5 separate regions of the Homo sapiens genome follow, and regions 1, 2, 4 and 5 are each linked to region 3. The links come from fine-mapping of genetic effects on gene expression. A gene starts in region 3. Each other region holds a variant in brackets. All regions are shown on one strand. Distances are between the middles of the regions. Region 1 overlaps SLC45A4 (solute carrier family 45 member 4). Region 2 has its middle 11 kb from the start of LINC01300. Region 3 holds the start of SLC45A4 (solute carrier family 45 member 4). Region 4 overlaps SLC45A4 (solute carrier family 45 member 4). Region 5 overlaps SLC45A4 (solute carrier family 45 member 4).

What was found. PIP is the estimated chance that this variant, and not a neighbour inherited with it, causes the effect.
Region 1: its variant is the best candidate, but not a certain one, in a credible set for the expression of SLC45A4 in tibial artery (GTEx, PIP 0.77).
Region 2: its variant is the best candidate, but not a certain one, in a credible set for the expression of SLC45A4 in nasal epithelium (TOPMed, PIP 0.63).
Region 4: its variant is the best candidate, but not a certain one, in a credible set for the expression of SLC45A4 in minor salivary gland (GTEx, PIP 0.51).
Region 5: its variant is the best candidate, but not a certain one, in a credible set for the expression of SLC45A4 in lymphoblastoid cells after a statin (CAP, PIP 0.72).

The regions. Positions count from the first base shown.
Region 1 is chr8:141,245,090-141,249,202 of GRCh38, forward strand. All of the region lies in intron 2 of SLC45A4 (solute carrier family 45 member 4), which reads right to left. Among named protein-coding and RNA genes, the nearest start is that of SLC45A4-AS1, 7.4 kb to the right of the region's middle. RefSeq lists enhancers at 192-361, 1,228-1,908. The variant G/A (reference allele first, on the strand shown) is at 2,512.
Region 2 is chr8:141,327,843-141,331,955 of GRCh38, forward strand. No RefSeq gene overlaps it. Among named protein-coding and RNA genes, the nearest start is that of LINC01300, 11 kb to the right of the region's middle. RefSeq lists enhancers at 1,265-1,801, 1,802-2,336. The variant G/A (reference allele first, on the strand shown) is at 1,822.
Region 3 is chr8:141,305,870-141,309,982 of GRCh38, forward strand. It overlaps SLC45A4 (solute carrier family 45 member 4), which reads right to left and starts at 2,419. Exons shown (of 9, transcript NM_001286646.2): 1 at 2,227-2,419. RefSeq lists silencers at 2,295-2,394, 2,415-2,654.
Region 4 is chr8:141,206,389-141,210,501 of GRCh38, forward strand. SLC45A4 (solute carrier family 45 member 4) reads right to left here. Exons shown (of 9, transcript NM_001286646.2): 9 at 786-4,113. Among named protein-coding and RNA genes, the nearest start is that of SLC45A4-AS1, 46 kb to the right of the region's middle. RefSeq lists enhancers at 1,928-2,435, 2,436-2,943. The variant G/A (reference allele first, on the strand shown) is at 1,632.
Region 5 is chr8:141,211,498-141,215,610 of GRCh38, forward strand. It overlaps SLC45A4 (solute carrier family 45 member 4), which reads right to left. Exons shown (of 9, transcript NM_001286646.2): 8 at 700-1,059; 9 at 1-200. The coding sequence ends at 75. Among named protein-coding and RNA genes, the nearest start is that of SLC45A4-AS1, 41 kb to the right of the region's middle. The variant T/TAGAC (reference allele first, on the strand shown) is at 1,575.

The DNA.
Region 1 (4,113 bases), 61 kb before region 3:
GCTGACTACGAACCCAAGTGGAGAAAAAGATAATGACAGTAATAACAGCTAACAATTACAGGCTCTGTTCTAAGCACATCATATGTGTCAACTCTGCACACGTTTCCAGAAGAAAGGAGATGCTGGTATCTGCTGAGATAAGTAAGGCTACACACTTGGAACATGGTCGATTTTTGGATTCTCCAAGAGGAGCCAACATTGGGTTGCTGGCTGCTGCTACCTCCACCACCACCGTTTCGAGGAGGGACAGGAAATCTCTGTCACTTGAGCAAATAATGGAAATGAAAGAGAAACCAGAAACAGGACTTGAATCATCATCATAAAGGAAAGTGTTAATTCATCACTCAACGAACAATGGGCCTTCCGCTCCATCACGTCTTCTGTCCAGGGTTCCCAGAGCCCCCTTTACTGCTTGCCTCCCCCAGGGCTGACCCGGGGGGCAGCCAGCAGAATCCCAGAGCATCAGGGACTCCCAGGAGACCCCAAAATCTGGTCTCAGCATCATAAGCACACCAAAGTCACCTGATGGCAGACAACTCCCAACCTGCCGCTCAGAGGAGGCTGGACTCTTAGAGCTAGATGGGACTCACAGACCCTCAGCGTGTCCCAACCCCAGACCAGCCTTAGGCCCAGGAGTCAAGGGCAGGGGGAAGGGAGGGGCCTCCCAGGGGCAGCAGCACTGTCTGCCAGCAGCATCGCAGGCAGTGTCACCACTAACTTCTGAAGAAGATAGCACACTGCCTGGGCTAAGGATGGTGCAGGCTGAATTGCTTTAGGAAACTGCCATCAAGGGCCACCTCACACACACGGGCATTAGCTGGCTGCTCCTAGATTCCAAACAACTCCTCTACTGATGCTGATGATGGCAGAGACTGAGCTAATTTGCTTCTCACAGCTTCCAGTTTGCTGATTTTCAAAGGGAAAGTTTTCTTTGGGGAAGAGAGAAAGGGCAGACTTGCTATTGCTTGATATTTCAAAACGAGTTACAATCTAAGGTTTCTGCTGCGATATTTATCAATACAAACATGCTGCTTCTGTAGTACCTTCGTACCCCTTCTACCAAGATGAGGATTGAGACAACGGGAAAAATTCCAATGTACCCAAAGTTATACAGGGGGAAGCAGTGCAAAGAGTCTGACAAACAGAATATTCTGAGCACGTGTACTGGTTTCCTGCTGCTGCGTAACAAACTGCACACCACCCAGCGGCACCGAGCAACAGTGACGGCCACATACCTCCTGCGGCCGGGAATTCAGGCACAGCTCTGCGGGGTGGCTCTGGTTTGGGGCCTCTCACAGGCTCCTGGACTGAGAGCCTCGGCCCTGGGGGTGTTGGCTGAGGCCTCCTGCTCAGTTATTTGCCATATGGGTCTTTCCAAGAAGGCAGCTTGATTCATCAAGATGTGCAGGCCAAGGCAGCAACAGAGAGGGTCTCCCAGCAAGGTGGAGTCACACGTTTGCGTCAGGCGACATCCCCTCGATGCTGCCATATTCTATTGGTTAACAGGAATTACTCAAGGGGAGGGCATTGCACAAGGCCGTGAAAGCCAAGGGGTGAAGGTCACGGGGTCACACAGAGGGTATCTCAGGGGTCTCTTAGAGCCTCTTTATACTCCTCCCTGACCCCTCTGTGTAACAGCAAATTTATTAGAAATGAAACCATTTCTAATAAATGATTTTATTAGGAAAGAAAAATATAAAAAAACCAATGCTATAAGCTTCACCTTAAGAAACTAGAAGAAGTAGCCAGTTGTGGTGGTGCACACCTGCAATCCCAGCTACTCAGGAGGCTGAGGCAGGAGGATTGCTTGAGCCCAGGAGTTTCAGTCCAGCCAGCCTGGGCAACACAGTGAGACACCATCTAATAATAGAAAAATAATAAACTAGAAAAAGAGCAAATTAAAACCAAGTAAGCAGAAGAAAACAAAATGAATATAAGAGCATAAATTAACAAAATAGAAAATAAACAACAGAGGAAAAAACCGAATGAAGCTGAAAGCATAGTCTTTGAAAAGACCAACAAAATTGATAAACCTTTAACCAGGCTGATCAAATTACCAATATCAGGAAAGAAGGAACATCAATACAGGTCTTACAATTAAAAGTTACTGGAACTACTAAGTGAGTTTGGCAAAATTGCAAGGTATAAGGTCAATATATAAAAATCACTTATACTACTCTATAGAACGATGAACAACCAGAAATGGAAATTAAAGCAGTGCTATTTACAATAACATGATAACAATGAAATACTTTAAGTATGTGACGGACCTACATACTAAAAATTATGAAACATTCCTAGGAGAAATTAAAGACTTAAGTGTGTTGAGAAGATATATTATGTTCATGGATCGAAGGACTCGAAATTAAGATGTCAATTCTCTATAGATTCAATGCAATTCCAGTAAAAATCCAGCAGGCTTTTTGTAGAAATTGATAACTCTAAAATTTATATGGAGATGTGAAAGAACTGCAACAGCCAAAACAAGTTTTCTTTTTCTTTTTTAGAAAC[G/A]AGGTCTTGCTGTGTTGCCTAGGATGGTCTCGAACGCCTGAGTTCAAGCAATCTTCCCGCCTTGGCTTCCCAAAGTGCTGGGATTACAGGTGTGAGTCACTACGCCTGGCCCAAAACAAGTTCCAAAAGGTAGGCATATTTCCTAATTTCGAGATGCCCCATAAAACTACAGAAATCAATCAATCGTTGTATCAGGAACAGACATATAGATCAATGGAACAGAATAGTGCCTAGAAACAGATTCACAATATAGGTAGCCAGTAAATGCCAACAGAGGTGCCATGGATTTCAATGGGAAAGGACAGGCTTTTTACAAGTGATGCTGGAACAACTCAATTTCCACGTGCCAGATGGAGGGGGAATCCCTCAACTCTTACGGTATACAAAAATTCACTCAAAATGGATCACAGACCTAGGTGAGAGAACTACTGAGGCATCTAGAAGGAAACATAAGGGAAAATCATTAAGACTTCAGGCCCAGGAGTTGAAGCTGCAGTGAGCCACGATCACAGTACTACACTCCAGCCCAGGCAATGCAGTGAGACCTCCAGCTCTTAAAAAAGACTTCAGGTCAGGCAAAGAGTTCTTAATTGAAAAAGAACAAAAAAGAACATATTTGATACACCAAATTTCATCAAAATTTAAAACTTTTGCTTTCTGAAAGATACCATTAGGAAAATGGAAAGGAACCTGGCACAGTGGCTCACGCCTATAGCCCCAGCACTCTGGGACTCAGGCAGGAGGATCACTTGAGCCCTGGAGTTCTAGACCAGCCAGGGCAACATAGTGAGACTCCATCTCCCTAAAAAATTTAAAATATTAGCTAGGTGTGGTGGTGCGTACCTACAGTCCAAGCTACTCAGGAGGCTGAGGCGGGAGGATCACTTGAGCCCAGGAAGGTTGAGGCTGCAGAGAGCTGTGATCACACCACTGCATTTCAGCCTGGGAAACAGAGTCCCTGTTTAAAAAAAAAAATAATAATAAATAAATAAAAGTGGCTCATGCCTGTAATCCTAGCACTTTGGGAGACCAAGGTAAGAGGATCACTTAAGCCCAAGAGTTCAAGACTGGCCTGGGTGACATAGCAAAACCTCGTCTCAATAAAGTGTAAGAATATATAAAAAAACAAAACAGGCTAGGCCTGTAGCTCACATCTGTAATTACAGCACTTGGCGAGGCTGAGGTGGGCAGATGGCTTGAGCCCAGAAGTTCGAAACCAGCCTGGGCAACATACGGTGAAACCCCATCTCTACAAAAAATACAAAAATTAGATGGGCGTGGTGGTGCACACCTGTAGTCCCAGCTACCTGGGAGGCTGAGGTGGGAGAATCAGCTGAGCCCAGGGAGGTCATGGCTGCAGTAAGTTGTGATAGTGCTGTGGCACTCCAGCCTGGGTGACAGAGTGAGACCCCATCTTAAAAAAAAAAAAAAAAAAAAGACATGCAAATTAAAGCTGCAATGAGATATGGTTCACACCCACTTCGATGAATGAAGTTGAAAAGGACTGACAACACTAAACATTGACGACGATGTGGAGAAATGGGAACTGTCCTACGCTGCAGTGGGAATGCAAGATGGTACCGTCACCCTGGAAAGCACTGG
Region 2 (4,113 bases), 22 kb after region 3:
CTCAGCCTCCTTGGTAGCTGGGATTACAGGCTCACATCACCACGCCCAGCTAATTTTTGTATTTTTAGTAGAGACGGGGTTTCACCATGTTGGCCAGGCTGGTCTTGAACTCCTGACTTCAGGTGATCTGCCTGCCTCAGTCTCCCAAACTACTGGGATTACAGGTGTGAGCCACTGCACCTGGCCCCTTCTTTAGTTTTCTTTTCAACCATTTAAAAATGTAAAAACCATTTTAGCTTGCAGTCCTACAGAAACAGGTGGCTGGCCAGCTTTGGTCTGAAAGCCAGCCCTGCCCTAAGTGAAGGAGCCCTCTCAGCACTAAGAGGCGCCGGGCCAGACCTGCTTATCGATCACCTTTGGGCCCAGTGTGGGGCTGCTGCTCCGGAAACAATTTTTCTTTTTCTTTCAAGATTCACCAGCTCTGTTCAGGAGGGTGGCCAGCTTGGCGACCTGGACATTTAATCCTCCAGCCAAAGATTCCCTTCTGTGCGGCAGCCCTGAGGGGGCTGTCTAGATGACCTCACTTGAGCTGAGTGACTGCCTGGGATGTGGGTCCCGTGAATGGGGCACCTGTTTCACAGATGAGCAAACTGATGCTCCGAGGCAAGTTACTCAATCCCCTGACCCCGGCACGGTGCCCCGCCTCTTGGAGCCCAAGCCAGCGGGGCTGAGGCAGGGGCTGCTGGGGGTGGACAGGGGAGGTGGGCTTGGGAGCACTGAAGAAAGGGTGACACTCCAGGCATCTGTGAAAGCCCAGAAGACATCCCTAGACAAAGGAGGAAACAGGGTTAGGGAAGGGCACTCCTAGAGAAGGAGCAGCTTGCAGAGGCCCAGTAGTGGCACCACAGGGGCAGCTGGAAGATGTGGCACCACGGGGGCAGCTGGAAGATGTGGCACCACGGGGCAGCTGGAAAGTGGGGTTGGTGGGCAGAGGTGAGACTGAGTCCTGGGAGAAGTCCACACCGGACATGGGAGACTTTCCCCTGACCTGATGGGCTTTATTTAAGCAAGGAAGGGACTGGTGTGAATTAGATTGGAGACACTCCCTCTGTCGGCACAGAGACAGCACTCTCCACTAGAAATCTCATGCCAGCCTCGTGAATAATTTCTAATTTTCTATCAGCCACGTTAGGAAAACGGAAAAAGAATTTGATGCAAATTATTTTAGTAATATATTTTATGGAACCTAATATATCCAATATATTATTTAAACGTGTCATTCATATAACAAATTATGAATGAGATATTTCACAGTCTGTCTCATACTAGGTGGGGACATATTCCACGCTTACCGTACAACTCAATTCGGACTGGCTGCACCTCATGTACTCAGAAGACAGGCTGCAGTCTTGTATGACATCTTGGATGAGACTCAGGCCGCAGTCTTGGATGACACATACGTGGACATCGGGCTGTGGTGGCCGGAGTAGAGTCAGAGAGGCTGGAAGGAGGCCCTTTTCCAGGGCAGGAATGATGGTGCCTGGCCTGGAGCTGTGGTGGGGTTCCTGGCCCTCCATTCAGCTGCCAGCCCATCCCAGCTTGCACCGGAGGGAAGCAGCGGGCCTGGGCTCTGCGGCATCCCAGGGGGGCAGGTCACAGGGCAGCTACCCTACCCCAGCCTCCTCCCTGACCCCGCCGGTGTCTGCCCAGACAGCCGGCATCCCCATCCCGCTGGGCTGGCTCCCGGCCCTGCCCTACCCCCAACTCCAGACTCATGTCAGGCTTCCTGTCCCAGCCGGAGGGTGACCCGAGGCCTGACCCCAGAGGCCCAGGCGATGGGCCCGGAAGGAAGGCCGCCTCCTTGATGCAGCCACAGCAGGC[G/A]GGGCTGGGGCTTCCCCATGGACTCCCTCGGGAAGCACTTCACACTTTGGTGGGCGCTCAGCCAGGGCGGCCCCCAGCAGCGGCAGGAGGCGAGGGCCTCTGGGGCAGGGAGGACATGCACCTGCGCCTGGGCCTGTGAGGGGCTCCCCCACCACAGCGTGGGGTCTCTGGGCATGCCAGGGTTGCCCCCACTAGACAGCCAGGGTTCTCAGGGAACACAGAGCAGGCAAGCAGGCCGGCTTCTGCTTCAGCCTCAGCCCCTGTCCGCACCTGGGGCAGCACAGGACAGGTTTAGGAACAGACCCTAGCTGCACGCCTGGTGAGGACCTTCACCTCTGGGCCTCCCGCTGCTCCTCTGTGAAAATGGAGGTATCGGGGTGTTCGTCCCTTCTAGGGCCAGAGAGAGATGGCAGCGAATGCACGTGGTCCCTAAAGGAGAGCCGTCCGTGGCCACGTAGGAAAGTGTCAGGCCCAGCTCCTCATTCCTGGGATGTGGCCTTTTCTCACCTGCGCTGAACTCTGCTCTCAGGACTCAAACCCTGAGCTGCTGTGGAGGCTAACTCACTCATGCTCCAGGCCCATCTTCTGAATAAGTTTCCCAGACCCTCCAACCTGCCCTCCGTGTCGGCCCTGGGGTGCCTGCCTCTCCTTCCCTCTTCCTCTTCTTCTCACAAATATGGGCCGAGCTCATGTGATACGTCAGGCACTATGCTAGGACGTGGGGGTCCAGCTGGAAGGGACAGGACAGAACCCTGCCCTCCTGGAGCTGGCAGTCTGTAGCAGACACTAATCAGTTAAACAGATCACAAACTGTGACTGTCTCCAGCAGAGACACCTGGTTGGCCTTGGGGGAGCACATAGCAGATGGATGGGGGTCCCTGCCCAGGGCTGCCGGCAGGCGGTGCACCTTGCACTGCTCACTTAGTCCCACAGCCTCGCTTGCCCGCAGGCAGTGTGTCCTCTGCACACTTTCAGGGCTCCGTCCTTCTGCCCAGCGCCTCTGCAGGCTACGCCTTCTGTGCTGGGCCTCTGGGCATAGTTACTAGGCAGCCAGGGCTGGGGCCAGCCCTTGGCCTTAGCTCAGCTCCAGGGAGGATCAAGAGGGTGTCCAGTGTGGCCGTACACCTGGGCACCTGCTTCAGAATCCAGGTCCTTGGGAAACAAGTGGCTTTGGTCTTGCCAATGCCTTTGCTCTGTTTTCAGCTGGGAATTAAGCTGGGGAACAGCAGGAGGGGCAGCATTTGCTGGCCCTGGTGCAGGAGGTTGTGGGTGAGAAGAGCCGAGTTCAGGTCCCCACCTGGGCAGCCTGTGGTGTGAGCTAGAGGTGCAGAAGCCTGCGGGGACACGGAGGGCAGCCGGGCAGGAGCCTGCGGGGACACGGAGGGCAGCCAGGCAGGAGGCTGCGGGGACGTGGAGGGCAGCCGGGCAGGAGCCTGCAGGGATGCGGAGGGCAGCAGGGCAGGCTGGGCTTTCTCCAGTGCTTGCTCCCCTCCCAAGGGAGTTCCTAATTTGGGTCCCCCTGCTCTTCCTTGGTTGAGTGGGCCCCACGCACTTGGCTATGATCCAGCAGACTCCTGCGTCCTGGTGTGTCCCTGCCCCACCTTCCCACTGCCCTCGGCCTCTCTCCCAGCCCCTGGGAGCTGGGTTTTTTGCTTCCAATTTCAAATACATCAGACTCCATCCCACTGTCCTATCCCAAGGTGTCTTTTGCCTTTCTGGGAAAATAAAGTGGCAGGGGAGTGAACCCACCGCAATGGGACAGCCCTCCTCCTGTCCTCCGCGGGAGCAGCATCTCGCAGGGGCTCCGCCAAGCCTTCGAGGCCCAGCCAAAGCTGGGGTGGGGGCACTGGCCGGAAGCTTAGGGGAGGGGGAGCCTGCAGGACTTCACTCCTGTGCCCGTGTGGCCGGGGGTACCTGCTTGACCTCTGAGCTGTCACCGGGAATAGTGTCCAGCCTGCCTGCCTGCTGGGACCTCTGCAGAGACCATGAGCTCAGTCCTCAGGGCCTAGGTCCTGGGTTAACACTGAGGGCTGTGCGGCCAAGGACCCCGGGGTGGGCATGACCGGGGTGTGTGGAGGAAGGAAGGGGGTCTGGGAAAGGATGCAGACAAGAGGTGGGTGCTGGGCCAGCACCTGCTTCTGTTCTTGGCCTCAGGACCGTCTATGGAATTGGGAGTAATTCTCTGCAACATGGGCCCTGCAGCCGAGGTCTGGGCAGAGGCGTCAGGGCACAGAGCAGTGGTACCACCATGCCAGGGAGATGCTCAGGCCAGGACCAAGCAGAAAGGGGAGC
Region 3 (4,113 bases):
TCGGCTCCTTTCCTCCATCGGGAAAGTGGGGAGCTGCCGCTGCCGCAGCCCTCTCCTTCCCTGCAGATCTGCGGGGCGGGCTGGGGCGGGATCTCAGAGCTCACGGAAAGGAGGCAGAATCCGGTTTACAGGCTTGCTCCGCCCCTCCCCCACCCCCCTCCAATAAGCAAAGTTAGAGGGTGTTACAAGCTGCAAGACACACACCTTGGAGCTCACCCAGTCCAATCTCTGATCTGCTTTCACGATGCGACAAGGGCCAAAGCTGCAGCACGCATCTCGGCAGGGCAGCAGGCCACTCCCCCCACGAGGCCCGGGAGGTGGCCCTGGGCAGCCTCCCCACTCCCCGCCCTGTGAACACCTGGGCCAAAAAAACACACCTTTAAATACCCAGTGTGTATTTCAAACACATTTCAAACGATTTGCTTCTTTCCTTTACAGCCACTGCCACAAAAACAATTAGCCTGAACGGGTGTGAAATCCTTGATGTGTAAGACGACCTAGTTCCCCAGCCTCTCTCTAGAAACACATGAGTTCTTTACTGCGCCTGAGTCTCCTCCACCCGGAACCTGCAGGGCTGCCTCTTCTCATCAAGTGGCTTCTGCAAAACCTCTCCCAAGCATTTAAATAATCTCTGCTCGTTCTTTTAACAATAATTCAAACCTAGCAGAAAAGTGAGGACACTATACATTTCTTTTAAGGACAGTGTGTGTTACCTGCTCTGATCCCCATGTGTTACACTCCCTAACCTGTACACCAATACTCCAGCTTTTTGTTTTCTTATTTTTTCCTAAAGCCAGCACAAAATAACAGAAGGATAAGATTCCTACCACATTCTACCTGTCTGCCAATGACACAGGAAGGATGAGACCGTCTGGGGAATGGAAGCGCAGGGCGCTCTCAGTAATGCTGGGCAGATGCAGTGGCTTTTCCCCAGCAGAAATGGGCTTCGATTCAGAATCTACCAGCCCACAAGAATCATCTGACCCCACAACAATTAGTTCAATCACTCATCTGGTAAACCCTCCTCGCTCCGGGTCATAGACTGGAAAAGACAGCCCCCAAAACAGTAATAAAAACGACAAGCCCTGTTTTGCTGGAGTCAGCTGAGGTATCAGATGGGGGTCAGTGGCTAGGTCTGTGAACCTGAAGCCACACTCCATCAGTGACCCGCACTGGAGAGACACAAACACCTCAGGCTCCTTAGGAGGTCAAGCGGCCCTTCCCAGCCCTCCCTAGCCCCCGCCTTCTAGAATCATTCTGAATAGCTAACCAGGAGGCTGGGCCCCGTGTGGATCCGCCTCCGCTGGAAAAGCCGCTGCTGGAAGTGCTCCAATCCAGAGCAGGATACCTGGGGGAGGAACGGGTTAAGCGCAAAGGGGAAAGGGGCAGCGGGTGCTGAGACGCAGAAGGTGCGGGGACTTCTACAGAGCAGGGAATCTGGGCCCGGATGAACTGATGCCCTGGCCTCTTTCCTCCAGGGACAAGGTCGGTCTCAGGAAATCAAGGTATCTTCAAAGGGACACAAGGGAGCGCAGTGCCGATGAGACCGGGGCAGAGCCACAGTCTGGCGGTGCAGGCTGGGGGTCCGAGGCGGGGGACACTGGCTAGCAGTGCTGCCAGGGTCGTGTGTGCACTGGGCAGAGGGAAAGGAGGGGAAGAAGGGAAGGGGAAGAAGGGGAAGAAGGGAGTGTGTTCGGTTGGGAGGACCGGTCCAGACAGAGGGGAGAGGGGGCCACTTCGCGAGTGGTGTATCGCTGGTTGAATTCTCATAAGTTAGAGATAGCAGGCAGGGGTTAGAAGGACAAGACAGGGTCAGGACCAGGAGTTAGAGGCGCCAGGCTCCTCTCTGGGTAGAGAAACCGAGGAACTGGGGGCGGGGAGGACTGATGGGTGCGAAAGCGGGCCGGGTCCAAATGAAGGCGCGCGCCCCGGGGTGGGGGCCGGGGTGGGGGGAATGAGGGAGGCTGCAGGGCTGGGGACCAGGGCAGGTGCAATCCGGAAAGAGGAGGCGGGAAGGAATTGGGGGGCCCTGAGGAGCCAGCGCAAGCCGGGTGGGGGCACGTCCCCTCCCCCGGAGAAGGTGCGGGGCTGGGGCTGCGGCGCGGACCCGACCTGGAGGCCGAGGCTGTGCGGGAGGTGGGGGTGGGGAGGCTGCAGGTGCCCGGCGCCCAGGTGCGAGGTGCAGGGGGCGGCGGGGCAGGCGGCTGCGGGCGGCAGGCCACTCACCTGTCTCCTCCGGCCGGGGCCGCGGGGGCGGCGGGGCGGCCGGGCCGGGCCGGGCAGGGGCTACGGGGGCGCGGAGCCCCGGGCGCACCGGGGTCGGGAGGCGGCTGCGGGTCCGGGCGGGGGCTGCTCCCTCGGCCGGCCGGCCGGGCGGTCAGTCAGCGACGCGGGCGCGGAGAGAGCGCTGCGAGGCTGCGGCCGGCGCGCGGAGACAACGCCGCTTTATCGGGTCGGAAACAGCCGCTCCGCGCCGCTTCCGCTGACGCAGCGCCGGCCCCTGCGCCTCATGACTATGCAGCACCCGCCGCCGCGGGACGGGGATTCGGGGGGCGGGGTCTGCGCCGCGCGCGCTCATTGGCCTCCGCTGCCGCCCACCCCGCCCCCGAACGGCCGCCCCGCCCCCGCCGCGCCCCTGCCCCGCCCCCGCGCGCACCGTGGCTCCCGCCCCCGTCTCGCCATGGCCCCGCCCCCAGCCATAATCCAGCCCCGCCCCCGCCCTCCTCCCGCTACGCCCCCGGCCCCGGCCCCGGCCCCGGCCCCTCCGCACCGAGCGTCCGCCCTCTCTCCCCTAAAGCGCTGGCCCGCAATCCACCCCATCCCTCTCTGCAGCCGCAGGAGGTGGCCCCCGCCTGTCCCCACCTTCTCTCCCCGCTCCTCTCGCCACTCTGTCGCAGAGGGGTCCGGCTAGCCACGAGGCCCCGGCCCCCGGCAGCCCAGCCCCTTGGCAAGCACCCTCCCGCCCCCTCCGCCCCTGCCCGTGGCGCGGCGACATGGGCCCCATCCAGGTGCTGCAGCCCCTCCTCCGCTGCAGGAGAAAACTCTCCTGTTTTCCCCTCCCTGCCACCCTCCGAAGACCTCCTACCTGGTCCCGGACCACGCCCCCGTCCCCAACTCCCCCAACGCCCCGCGCTCTGCGGGTCCCCTCTCCAACCTGGAGAGCGGGGCAGGACGAAGACCCGACCCGGAGCTTCCTGGAGGCTGGGCCTCCCTCTCAGGCTTGGCCCTGGCCAGGGACACTGATCCGTCTCTCCCCACGTGTAGAAGGGCCACAATCCCTAGGGCAGGACTGCTGGGAAACCCCATCAAGACAAGGTCTGGGGAGGCGGCTTTAACAGACAGATGTGATGGGCTGAGGCCAACCCTGTTAACGTCGCAGCCCTGCACCCTTGCCAGGGTTTAAGTTGCTTTGGAGGAATTACTTCATTTCTCAGAACCTTGGCGTCCTCATCTGTAAAATAGAAATCGTAAGATCCATCTCACCTGTTGCTAAAGGAATTTAGAAGTGAAGTGCAGAGCAGAGCCTCCAAGAGCATCGGAAATGGGAAAATCTGACCATATCAAGTGTTGACAAGGAAATGGAGCAACTGGAACTGCCAGACACTGTTGGTGGACATGCAAAGTGGTACAACTTTCAAAATCTTTTTGAAAGGCCTTGATTACCCAGCAATTCTGCTCCTAGATACACACCTAACATTGTGTTTCTGTTGATAGCAGCAGTGTTTATAATTGCCCCAAACTGGAAACTACTGAAATGCTCATCAGCCGTTAAATGGATACATAAATTGTGATATATTCACACAGTGGAATGACAGCAATGACAGTGAATAATCAACTACACACAACAACATGGATGACTCTCACAAATGATGTTGAGGAAAAGAAGCCAGAGGATAAAAAGCCATATTTGTTTCCATGTGGATAAAGTGGTAGAAGGTGTATATGGGGGTAGCAGTCAGGATAGTGGTTACCCTTGGAGGGAGGGGTGCCAGAGCCAGGAAGCAGGGCACAGAGGACGTGTCTGGGGGCTGGCTGTGTTCTGTGTCTTGGTCTGAGTGCTGGTTACAGTGTGCTCAGTTTATGATGACTTTTCCAGCTGTGCAGTCAAGATGC
Region 4 (4,113 bases), 99 kb before region 3:
CCCCAGGTCCGGAGGTTCCTGGCTTCCGTGGGCCCCCAACTGCGCAGGTCCCATCCAGGAGCCCCGTGGTGACACCCCCCAACTATCAAAGTCCCTCGTCCCTTTCTCCCTCGTCTGAGCAGATCCCTTCTACTCCACACCCCGGCCCTGCTGGGACCCCTTCCACGCCCCACAAATCAGAAGAGCCACTGAAGAAAACTTGCTTCCGGATTCAAACCCCAGCAGCTGGGTAACCCGGGGCAAGTCCCCTCCCTTTCATTTCCTCCACTGCCAACTGCCAGTCACAGCCCTCAGTGGGGTGCCAGAGGACAGAGATGACTCACTCTGCCTGTAGGAAGGTCAATGGAGCGCTCTTCCAGCCGCCCCAGGACCCCATATGTCCCCTGGGGCGCCAAAGCCAGGTGCACACACCGGGCCACCCCGTCCTCAGCCCAGCGTGGCCCCTCCTGCTGGCAGCAACAGCAAGCAGGCTGCCTCCTTAAGACACTGGCTCCAGGGACAGTCAGGGACCCTTCAGCAGAGGTAGACCGCGGGCCCCACCCCGGCTCCACCAGAACAGGCCTGCAGAAGGCCCAGGCCTCAACCCCACCTGAGTGGGCCTGTGTGTGGGTTCCAGGGACAGGCCCCGGATTTGCCAGCTGGCGGCCCTCTGGGAAGCAAATGCTCTGGTACTTGGGCCCAGCTCCCCTCCGCAGGCCTCAGACAGCCCACTAGACCCACCAGGCTCCAGGAAGGCAGAGGGCAGGAGGCCACAGGGAAGTGACAGACACACCCACATCATCATGTCAGAGGGAAAAGTTTATTGAGTCAGCCACAGAGGAACAGAGAAACAGACACAAGGAGGTTCTGTGTGCATGGAGGAAATCAGGGCGCCGCACAGCTGAACCCTGCGCAGGACAGAGGGGCGCGGACAGCAGCGCATGCCACAAACATTCACCTGGCAAAGAAACAGAGCAGAACCTAAGGGCTCTGTGTACACACAGACACAAACATGAGGCCACTGTTACCCAACTAATAGAAGAGAGTCATGAGCGACACGACACTTCCTTACGACCTCTCTCTCCTAAAACGTAACATTATGTGTTTAACACACGCTTACCACCACTGCTAACTCAGCAAGCGCGATTACAGTGCTCCAACTTAATAAGTTGATAAAAAGCTGTCCCGTGGCCAGTTCACAATGGAACTAAATAGTTTCGTTCCGAGATGCCTGGGGAGTTTCTCTGGCAACGAGGCATTTCCAACAAACGGGTCATTCTGTCACCAGGGGATGGTCTCAGTCCACGGCACAGAGCGACGTGCCCCTGGCAGCACTGTGGAGGGCAAGGGATGCCGCTAGGAGGGGTGCTCAGTCCTCCTGGAGGACCCAAGGAGGGGCTGGCCAAGGGGCCACCTTGAGCTCTGGCCGGAGGGTGATGGCTGGCTTTGCATGAGGAGGTGACAAGAACTTTGGGCTGGGCCCCCAACATGCTGTGTGCACGGGCCTTGTTCAACTCGGAACTGAACTGACACCTCTCCCAGGTGGTGAAGGGCAGAACCCCCCCAGGAGCTCTCGGAAGCAGGGGTCCCTCACGACAGGCCTGTGGCACCAGGCTTGGAGGCAGGGAGCTGGTGTCTCTCAGAAGCGGCGC[G/A]TGCTGGTGGGAGGCGGAGGGACAAACGAGGCTGACTCCGCAGCAGCAGTCCCTCACACGCTGTGTGGTGGCTAAAGCTGGACCAAAGTTAAGAAGCGAAACAGCGTGGGAAAAGGTGTCCATCTTTTCTGAAGCCGGTTAATGTCTAGTGTGGACAGCAATATTTGGTGTTTTAACAAACCTGGTCTCTAATAGGGGCCGCCATCGCTGGTGGCTGCACAAACCATTAGCCATATAAGGGAACAGTTGGTATCTTTAAGAGTATTTTTCAAACATGTCACCCGAACATCACCGCCCCAGCAGTGGGAGAGCCGAGGGTGGCCTGCAGCTCCCCCTTCCAGCCCTCTTGTTGCTGCAGGGACGGCTTCCTGTTCAGCTCTGGGGTTCTAGGTGGTCACAGACCAAGTCCTCCACACCTGGGGCATTCAAGAAACACTCCTGATGGCTGTTGGAAGCCACTAACCATCTGAGGAGGGCTCAGTGGCCCTGCCTCCCCCCCGGGGACAGGACTGGACAGAGTGCTTCTCCCAGGGGCCTGAGGCTTTCAAGGGCAGGTGTCCAAGAGGCAGCACACAGCACTGACGTGTTCAGTGGCAGGTTGGAGGATTCCAGCTAAGGCCCCTGCCTGAGAGTGAGAAAAACAACACTCCAAAGCTAGCTCTTCAGCCACCAGGGAACGTCATGATGCCAGTCTGCCGACAGACCCAGGAAAGGGGACACAGGCAGGCCGGCCCAGCTGAGAGCTCACGGCCTCTGCCCCTTCCCGCCAGCTCGCATTCCTGCACCTGGAAACTTCTGCCATGTGTTAAGGGGAAGCTCGTTAAAAGAGTCTTTACTTAGCTGACTTGTATAGGGAACAAAACCACCACAAATGAGACCAACATTATCCTAGTTTGGTAACTGGTCTGCGCACATTACACAAGACTCGACCAACCGACACACCCTGCCTGACACTCCACTCAGTGTGCAGAGGCACCCAGGCCACCAGCCTGCACAGCCCACACCCCAAGGGTGCCACGAGCCCAACTCCAGCTGCGTCCTCAGCACTGGATGGCTGGCCAGCTTCCCCAGGGGGCACCCGCACGGCCTCCTCGTCCCTCTCGGGCAAGGCTATCAGCCAGAGCACCTCCCCTTTGACACTGACCGGCGTCCCCAGCCCCGCCTTGTTACTGCATCCGTCTGAGGTACAAGGTTAGAAGCCACAGACACCCGAGCTGCAGCCTGACCCACACAAGCTGCGGGCGCAATGGCGCTTTGCAGACAAGACAGCCTGCCCGTCTGCCCTTCTTCTCGGCTTCCCTTAAGACACAAGGTGACGACACGGACGGTTTCAAGTGAGTGCAATCTGGAAATAATCTCAGTGCAGGGGAGGGGTTGAGGCCAAAGATGTCGTGACCTGGTCCCCGCTGTGGCCAGGCCGGGCCCACACGCACCGCCAGAGCCCCGGTCACCCACACCTGCCTCCCAGGAAGGCAGCTCCAGAAACCGACTCTACTGACCCTGGACCCCAGCCCCTGCGGTCCCCTCATTTGGGCTCTGCACACTGACCTGCACACTAAGAAGGGCTTTGCTTGCAAACACCTGAAGTGCTGACAGCTTGACGAGTCTACAAAGTGTGCAGCCACCGACTCCTGTCACCGAGGAGCACACAACAGTCACGCCTGTCCCTGGCTGGCACTGGCTTCCGGCACGTTCATACCCTGACAGTGACTGTGGCAAGGCCATGTGGAGGGCACTGAATGGCCTTTGTTGTCCTTACTTCAGATTAGTCGAGGCTGGGATCTCAAGGGTTAACACACTATTCAGAGGGGGGTTGCGAAGCCCCTCTTCCTCCTAAAAATCAAGTCGCAGCCAGGCCCTGAGACTTCTGCACTCCCAGCTGGCGAGGAATCGGCTTTGGTGAGCCCTGGATCCGGCCCCTGGGCCTTCAGATGAGGGTGGGAAGCCTCAGGCAAGGGGTGGCCCCCAGATGAACCCACATTTGGTGTGGTTTGGGTCGGATCTTGATTCGGGTCAGGCCACTGCCACCCCACATCCGCTGCTTTCTTGCCTCCAACTGTTTTATAGTCGTCAGGACGAGAAGCCGGAGAAACCAGCTAAGACGGGAGCTGCGCCTCGAGATCCTGACAAGTACAGCCAGGTCTCAGAGAGGGGATCTACAGTCTTAAAGCCGCTAGAGGATCAAGTTGCATAGAGTGAGCTGCCACGGACGCCCGGCCGAGGTGAGGAAGCCAGGGGTGCCGTCCCCCAGAGAAGAAGGGCCACAGTGCCCAGCCCACGGGGCTCCCGCTGGCCGGAGGGCTCGCAGCAAAGCTGGCAGCACTTTCAGTAGTCGGACTTGCCCTGTCCAAGCACGAGATTCACAAGGCCATTCTCAAGTTTCCACACATCCAGAAAATGTTCTTGAAGTCTTGAAAGTCAGCCCTCTGCGATCCTGGGACACCGTGGCCTGGCAGACACACCGTGCGTGAGCAGGTACCCA
Region 5 (4,113 bases), 94 kb before region 3:
TCGCTGCCCAAGGACAGGGCTGCCCTGGGCACAATGTGTCCAACTCGCTGAGGAAAAGAAGATACGTCATTCTTCTAAGAGAACCACATTGTGGAAAAGAAAATTTTTTTTCTAAAATAATCATAAAGAAAAATACTCTCCAACAGCTGCGGCACCAGCCAATGTGACGAGATCTGACAGACGTCAATACCTGCAGGCGTCTACAGAGAGGAAATTTGATAAAAATATTTTAGTCACTGACTACACTACCATTATCTGAAGCATTCAGATAAGACTTAGCAGAGAATGTCAGATTTTGTTTTCAATTATAATTTTAGAAATGCAAAATCTTATTTTTTCTAAGTTGCTTATTGTCTATATAAATGTTTTATATCATTTAAAAACATGCAGAATAATACACCTGCAGAATAAAAGAGCTGAAATTAAAATATCTTTTTCAATTAAAAAAAATATTTCAAATGATTCTTTTAATTATCGAAAAAGTGGTTAGTGTGGTATTTGCTTAGTAGCTCAAACCTACCCTACGACTACTGAATTGTGGCTATGGGGGCGGAGGGGCTCTGGCCCGCACTGCCGGGTCGGCCACAGCATCTGCAGGGTTCCGCGGTGTCTCTGCTCCCGCCCATGGCCTGGCCCCGCCGCCCGCCCGCCCGCCCACCCGCCCACTGGAATGTGTGTAAACGGGAGTGCGGCTCAGACCACGGACTCTGTCTCCACCGGTCCCTGCAGGCCCTCCTTCCGCGTGAGCTTCAGCACGGTGGGCTTTTCGCTGTTCCCACCGGCCCTGCCTTCGCCGGCCAACGGGGAAGACAGGCCTTTCTGCTCCTCCTTGGCCTCCTCTGACACGTTGGGATAGATCACCAGGAATGTGGCCGTCAGGAAGCCCAGGAAAGAGCCCACAGAGGCCACCATGGGGATGACGCGGACAGTCCCCACGGCGTCGACCACGCCCCCAAGGGCAGAGGCCACCAGGATCTGCGAGATGTACACTTGGCAGGACAGGATGGCACAATCTATGCCAAACCCTCGCTTGGAGTTCCCGGGGCTGTGGTGGATGTACTGCAAGAGAGGAAACACGAGGCGGTGAGCGGCTGGAGAAGGTGGCTGCTACCCGTGCTTCACAACTGTGAGTATTAACCCACAAGCCTGGAAACATGACCCGTCTTCCACCGAGTCTCTTGGCAACCACTCCTGCCTGAGCACCCTCAATCCCCCAGCTCCTGTCCAGCACTGTACAGGCGGAAGAGGTGGGAAGTTCTAGCTCAAGGAGAGGGCAGGCGTGGAAGCAACTCTGTCAATCCAGTCGGGACGTGGGCTTCCCAGGAATCTGGCCTCCAGTCTCAAGGAGAGGTGGCAGGGCCAGGCTCCACCAGGCGGGCTCCCCCTCACCCTGGTGGTCTCCAGCAGGGGCTGAGTGGGGAGGGGTGCTGTGAGCCCAGGTTGATGCCTCCCAAAGTATAACTGCAGGTGGCCACGTGCAACAAAGGCTGGACCCACGGAAAGAGTGAGCAGTTTCACTTGTGTTTCTTGCACAAAGATACAAAAGAAAACTGCTGTACATATATTACTACCAT[T/TAGAC]AGCATCTCTGCAAAGGCTTTTTCCTAGAGATAGTGAAAAAAAGGTCAGTCCACTAAGAAGCTAAAAAACAAAGCAGCTCTAAATGTGTGTGCCATAATCACAGTGAGAGATGGTTATCTACCTTTCAGAAAATAGAAGCAGGAAGAGAAGAGCTAAGCAATGTCAAGGTTGACCTCACAGACAGAGACGGGGCACTAGGTGCAGGACCCACATTCTTTCCAAGCGTACACGGAACATTTACCAACACGCGTGATGTGCTGGGCCACAAAGGAAGCCTCAGCTAACTGTAAGGCTGCAACCACATGGGGTATGTTCTCTGGCCATTAAGGAGTCACACTGGAAATCAGTAACAACAGGACAACTGGAAAAAGCCCAAATGTCAGAAATTCATCAGTGTCCTTCTAAATAATTCATGGTTCAAAATAGAAATCGTAATGAAAATTATAAAAATCTTTTAAAAGAAAACCCAACATTAAAACCTGCATGGTGCAGCTAAAGGTGTGTGTGGAGGGAAACTGACCTTAAATGCAAATATTAGCCTGGAAATCAGACTAAGAAATGAGCAACAGCAAATTAAACCAAGACATAACGGAAGGCAGGAGACAGCAAAGGGCGGCAGTGAACGCGCAAGCACGCGGACACGTGGCAGGGAGGACTAAGACGCCGAAAGTTCTTTGAAACACAAATAAAATCAATAAAGTCTCAGATAACTAACACGGGAGGAAAAAGGTGTTATCACTATAGGTTCCATCACATTAGATCATAAGAGAACAATTTAATGCTAATAATCTTGAAAGTGCAGATGAAATGGACACATTCTCAGAAAAACACAAATTAAAGCATCATACTCTGGGCTGGGCACAGTGGCTTCCACCTGTAATCCCAGCACCTTGGGAGGCCGAGACGGGTGGATCACCTGAGGTCAGGAGTTTGAGACCAGCCTGGCCAACATGGTGAAACTGTCGTCTCTACTAAAAATACAAAAATTAGCTGGGTGTGGTGGCAGGCGCCTGTAGTTCCAGCTACTCGGGAGGCTGAGTAGCCAGGAGGCAGAGGTTGTAGTGAGCCGAGATTGCACCACTGCACTCCAGCCTGGGCGACAGATCGAGACTCTGTCTCCAAAAAAAAAAAAAAAAAGCATCATACTTCCTAGTAAGATATTAAATACTCCCCTGTTGAGTTTGAAAGAGCAAACACCACTTCTACATATTTAGTATTGGAGGTTCCAGCCATTCCAAGAAGGCAAGGAAAATAAGTAACAGGTACGAAGGATCAGGAAGGAGAAAACGGAGCTCATTAGACACAGATGATGTGGCTGTGTAAGTAGATGGCCCAAAGAATCTCCAGATGTGCTGAGGATTAATAATAGAAGGGCATGTCACACTGATGCACTGAGGATTAATAATAGAAGGGTATGTCACACTTAGGGATAGGAAGTTCCATACTACAAAGTCATTCACTCTCCCCAAATTGACCCATATAATTTGTTTTTAATTTTAAAAGCCCAGAAGCTGAATCTAACATTTAGATGACAAATAAATGGTTGAGAATAGCCAAGACAATCTTGAAGAAGAACAAAGTTGAGGGATTTCTACTACCAGTTTTCAGGACTTATTACAAAACTAGTGAGAGACAGTTGACATTTGTGCAAGAATAGAGAGACTAGCGGAAGAGAAGAGAGCGGAAACACATGCTTACACGGAAGCCCAATTTATGGCAAAGGTGGCACTGCACAGAGGGGCGGGGAGCAGTGCTGGGTCATGACCTAGGCAGACACCCATATGTAGGGAAAAAAATAAAAGTCTTGAACCCCCACCTCAAACCACACACACCACACTACTCCAAGGAGACTGTCAGCCAACAGCACGGGCACAACAGGAGGTGTTTGTGGCAAGGGACGTTCATGCAGTGCTACCTGTGACGGCCCCAACCTGGAAGCACCCAAAGGCTCACAAAGCAGGGTGCATCTGGCCATACACTGTGACATGAAAAGGCTGGCCGTGCTGCCGCCAGCAAGCACGTGAGTGAATCCTAGAGGATGAAGCCAGATGTTTCAGCTGCATAAAGTCCAGAAAGAGGCAAGAGTCTGCCTGTGCTGCGGCTACTGAGCATTTGAGATAAAGCTCGTCTCATGTGTGATGTGCTGTGATGTAACATACACACAATTTCAACGATGAGCAAGAGTGTAAGGTATCTCGATGACTTTTTTCATATAGAGTACATGCTGAAATAATGTTTTAGATACACCAGGTTGAATAAATATGCTATGAAAATGGCCTTCACTGGCCTTTTCACTTTCTAAACGTGGCCGCCAGGAAGTCTAGGCATACCTGGGTGGCTTTCCTCCCATCCAAGTGGAAAACACGGGGCTGGAGCTTCCCCCTCAGGGAAATGTGACTGGGCCTGAGGGGACCAAAGGGGCAGGGACAGTGCTTTTGCCTCCAGAAGCCTCTGGAGGTGCTAGGGGGGTGGGGGCGGCTGAAGGAGAAGACCCTTTGTGGCCAGGGACCGATCAGGGGCAGGTGGTGGCTCTGTGGG